Linked DNA regions of Homo sapiens: region 2 is linked to region 1. A link means that fine-mapping ties the variant in region 1 to the expression of a gene that starts in the linked region. Tissue or cell type: whole blood. Region 1 holds a variant in brackets; the other region holds the start of a gene. All regions are shown on one strand. Distances are from middle to middle.

Region 1 (2,693 bases):
AGGTACATTTCATCTAATTAAATTTTGAAAAATTAAAGGAAATTGAGCCACAATAATTGTTGTCTTAAAAATATTTGTTCCTAGTCAGGAACCTATTAGACTGTTTCTGCTTGTTTAAAGCATTCATTCAGATTATGACTCCCTTTAGTTTCATTGTTTTGTATAAGTAACTCTGAAATCACATTGCTAAACTAAAGAAGCAGCTGAATGCAAAAGATCTTAAATCAATGTCAGAACTTCTCCTTGGTAATATTTCCCTGGTTACACTTCTGAAAAAATCCTGAAGTAAAAATTAGTTTTTACTTTATCCAACAGCAAAATTAAAGGTTAAAATTGTAAACCTCTTGCAGCTCTTTTATGACTAACATAACCATTTTATAGCCCATGGTTACAGTCCTTGCTTCAAGACAGCACACTGTAGCAATAAGTTTATTGCCCTTCCCTCAAGGACATCATTCTGGGAGGTTCTGTAGCTATTTGACAGAGGCTCTCTCTCTTTTGCTTTACTCATTACTATATAGAACAAAGATGTATAGTATAAAATTAGTTTGTACATGGCCAAACTATATTTTTAAGGTCCCGACTCCTAAGAGAAGTCCAATATTGGAGAAAGATAAATGATCTGGGAGCCAGGATTCTAGTCATATTTCCACCCAGCTGTTCGATCTAAGGCAACCACATCACCTCTCTGAGCCTCAGTCGACTCACCTACAAAAAAAGGCTGGATTATTAGATGATCTTTGATCAGGTTTAAGACTCTTATAACTCAGTGATGATATTTTCAAAAGGAAAAAAGGTAGAAACAGTAGGCAGTAAAATATCTGTTATTCAAAACTTAACAGATTTTGTTGAATAACAAAATTTATGATTTTTAATGCAAACAACTACAATAAAGGTCAGAAATTCTATTTAATATAGCATAACTATATTAAAGACTTCAAAACTCTAGCTTTTCTTGAAAATGTAAACATAAAAGTAAGGATAGATATTTGCTTTTAATTTCTTCATTTATGAAACTGATTACAGAAGGACTCTGAGGTTTAGAAAGGAATAGTGGCATGCTGATTTTGAAACTCCCCATTACCCACCTGAAAAATAAAATTAAATAAAATCAAAAAGGAGGACAAATAAAACACACAAGACCTATTCCTTCAGCATTTCTAGGAATCGGAAAATACAAATCTCAAACTACCTGTAAGCAGAAGAAAGAGCAAACAAACTAATTCTAACACAGCATTCCTAGCCTGTGGATACACGGAGTGGAGGAGAAGAGGCAGAAAAGACTTTGTGAGGGAGAGCAGGGAGGAGCCAAGGACCCACAGGGAACACAGAAAAAACCACCCTCAGAAACGAGTATAAGTGAGACAATAAATGCAAAGACACTGAGCACAGATCAGCCCTTGGTAATTCACAGTCCAGCTACCTCGGGGAAACTGTGATTTTGGAGGAGAATCAGATAAGACAGAAGAGGTGGTACCTCTTGGAGACCAAGTATTCAA[A/G]GAAAAGTTGGGACTAAGATTGAAAAATTAAGGATCCTGCAGAAATCAATGATAAGCAAGACAAGCCAACCCTGCCTACCACAACCACTCAAAAGATATCATAAAGGAAACTACACAGAAGGGCAGAACTGACAAAATACAGAGCTCTGAACCAAGGAGCCCTGATAACAAAATGAATCAAAATAGAAAAAAGTAGAGCACATCCCCACAAGCCTGCAAAACATCAGACATTGCTAATAAAAATGGGTTTCTTTTTGTTTGAAGTCTCTCCAGAAAACCAACATTGTGAACAGTGAGAACACATGGACAAGGGAGGGGAATATCACACACTGGGGCCTGTCAGGGAGTGGGGGATAAGGGGAGGGAGAGCATTAGGACAAACACCTAATGCATGCGGGGCTTAAAACCTAGATGACAGGTGCAGGAAATCACCATGGCACATGTATACCTATGTTAACAAACCTGAACATTCAGCAAATGTATCCCGTAACTTAAATTTTTTTTAAATTGCTGCTGTAACACAACAAAAGAAAATAACAACATTCTGTCTTTTAAAATAAAAAACAATAATGAAGCAGAAGAAAACTGAAACATCAATACAATCTGAGTTAAATGGCCTCAAATACTTGTGGTTGTGAATATGAAAAAAAATTGTTAAATCTGAAATAGAGACTGAAAGCAGAAATGAAACAAAATTTTTTTAAAAAAAAACAGGATAAGTGAACTCAGGAAAGAAATGGGGACAAAATGAAGAATAAATTACAAGGTGCCCAAAAGGGCACAGATGCAAAAGAAAACTTAAAGAAAATCAGGAAAAGCAATAAAAGAAAAAGAGACTGAGAGAAAGCAGCTGAAATGGAAGACACAAGGAGATGGAATATTCATATTGGTGTCTCTGAAGAAGAAAATGATAACCGAAGTGCAATAATATTTAAAATTATATCTCAAGGAAATTTTCCATAAGTAAAGAAGATATGTATCTACATATTAAATAGAAAATTTATGCAGAATAAGCAATTCTAAGATATTCTTGTAAAACTGTTAGTTAAGACTTTAGGATAATGGTAATGAAATGTATGAATTTGTATGTGAGAAAGACATGAGTTCTGGGGGTCAGGGGTGAATGCTGTGGTTTGAGTGTTTGTCTCCTTCAAAGTTCATGTTGAAACTTAATCTCCAGTAGCAGTATTGAGA
Region 2 (2,693 bases), 75 kb after region 1:
TATACTATACATAAGTATATTTAGATACTATGTATAGTATATATACTATACATAAGTATATTTAGATACTATGTATAGTATATATACTATACATAAGTATATTTAGATACTATGTATAGTATATATACTATACATAAGTATATTTAGATACTATATATACTATACGTAAGTATATTTAGATACTATATATAGTATATATACTATACATAAGTATATTTAGATATATATACTATAAATAAGTATATTTAGATACTATATATAGTATACATTAAGTATATTTAGATACTATATATAGTATATATACTATACATAAGTATATTTAGATACTATATATACTATACATAAGTATATTTAGATACTATATATACTATACATAAGTATATTTAGATACTATATATACTATACATAAGTATAGATACTATATATAGTATATATAGTATATATACTATACATAGTATATTTATGTACTATACATATAGTATATTTATATACTATATGTAAGTATATATGTAAGTATATTTATGTACTATATATAAGTATATATACCTAAGTATATTTAGGTACTATATATAAGTATGTATACCTAAGTATATTTCTGTACTATATATAAGTATATATACCTAAGTATATTTCTGTACTATATATAAGTATATATACGTAAGTATATTTCTGTACTATATATAAGTATATATACGTAAGTATATTTATGTACTATATATAAGTATACAGAAGTATATTTATGTACTATATATAAGTATATATACTATACATAAGTATATTTATGTACTATATATAAAGTATATAAGTACATTTTATATATATTTTTATATATAGTTATATATAATATATGAATAGTTATATATATATAAATCACAGTACATTTATTGATGGGCAGGGTCCGTAGTTTACTCACTTTCATTTTCCCAAAGCCATAAACACCTGAACTGTTTCCTGCTGTTTCTGTCCTGGTCACAGCCTTCCAGCGTAGGAGCCAGGCCACCTTCCTTTTTGCCACCTGTCCCAGCACCGCGACTGCGGGCAGCACAGGACCTGGGCGCTGCCCCATCACTTAGAGTGACTACCTGGGCCTGGGGATGCACCAAGTTTCTAGGAGCTTTTCGGAGTTGGGGACATAAAAAGGGGCAATTATTCCACAGAAGCCGCCACAGAGGTTAAGTGAGGTCGCGTGAGCGAACCGCTACTCCAATGCCGGAACTGTTCCCGGTCGCCCAGGGCAGCTCCGGATAACGCAGCAGGCAGGGGTCACCCAGAGGCTGCCTCCACCCTAGGCGCCGACCGCGCACGGCGCTCGCGCCCGCTCCTGAGGAGGGAAGGGGCCTCCCTGGAAACCCACAGCGCCCGCTGAACCCGGAGGGTGCGGTGAGGAAAATAACGGTCTCACCTTGAGTCGGAGGACGTCCGGCTAGCTCTGTGAACGGTGTTACCGCACTCGTCTCTTCCGGAGGTAGAGGGGCTACTCGCAACAGGAAGTTCCGCCCTTAAAAACTCCATTCCTGAGGGGGCGTGGTTGCTTTGCTGGGCCCCGCCCCGAGCTGCGCCCTGCGAGCCTCTGCCAGGCCGGGCCGGGTCCTGACCCGCGCTGGAGCATGGGATACTGCCTCTTCATTCTAGCTTCTGGTTCTTTTCTCCTGCTTGTCTTTTCATCTCTCAGTTTTTAAACATTACTTCTCTCTTTACTTTGCCTTTTTCTTCTTTCGTCCTCCATTCATTCACGGTTTCCCATTTAGCTTGCTTTCTTCTTTCTCCCATTTATTCTATAGTACTATTTTGACAAAACCCAGATTGCAGATATGATTCCGATTATGCAGCTTTTAGGTGCTAACCTAAAGCTGGTAAACCTATACTAGATTAAAAAAAAATAAACTGATAACCAGAACCAACTGCCCAATTCTTGATAATTTACTTACATACTATTTATTGAGGACTTACTATGCTTCAAGCAATTGTGTGGGGTTTTATTGTTTTGTTTTTTTGAGACGGAATTTCACTTTTGTCGCCCGGGCTGAAGTGCAATGGCGCGATCTCGGCTCACTGCAACGTCCGCCTCTTGGATTCAAGCGATTCTCATGCCTCAGCCTCCTGAGTAGCTGGGATTACAGACGCCTGCCACAACGCCCGGCTAATTTTTGTATCTTGTAGAGACGGGGTTTCACCATGTTGCTCAGGCTGGTCTCAAACTCCTGGACTCAAGTGATCCGCCTACCTCGGCCTCCCAAAGATTACAGGCATGAGCCACCACGCCTGGCCGAAATGTGTTTTTATATGCATTATTTTCCTTAAAGTTTTAACAGTTTCTTGAAAAAGGTATGATTAGCTTTGTCAGACAGATGAGGAAACTGAGGCTCAGAGTAGTTAAGTGATTTGTCCTCAGGTCACACAGCAAGAGCAGAGAGTGAAACACACTGAGTTCAAAGTTTTGGGGTTCAGAAAATGATACCCCACAATGAAGGCCTCAGAAGCAGCCTTAGAAGGAAAAATTTTCCTCTGACTCCTTTTGGTCTCCTGTCTCTGGTCCCACATTCTTCCCCAGACTAGTCATAGAAGCTAGAATTCCTCTTTCCCAAATCAGGTCCCAGAAATCAGGACCCCTTTTTTATAAAGCCAGCCATAAAACATAAAAATACTACTCTAGGCCAGGCAAGGTGGCTCACGCCTGTAATCCCACCACTTTG

Evidence for each region. PIP is the estimated chance that this variant, and not a neighbour inherited with it, causes the effect.
Region 2: IMPA1 starts here. The variant in region 1 is the best candidate, but not a certain one, in a credible set for the expression of IMPA1 in whole blood (INTERVAL, PIP 0.82).

The regions. Positions count from the first base shown.
Region 1 is chr8:81,609,592-81,612,284 of GRCh38, forward strand. It overlaps the pseudogene IMPA1P1. Among named protein-coding and RNA genes, the nearest start is that of IMPA1, 75 kb to the right of the region's middle. The variant A/G (reference allele first, on the strand shown) is at 1,500.
Region 2 is chr8:81,684,850-81,687,542 of GRCh38, forward strand. IMPA1 (inositol monophosphatase 1) reads right to left here and starts at 1,476. Exons shown (of 9, transcript NM_005536.4): 1 at 1,403-1,476. RefSeq lists an enhancer at 1,222-1,722.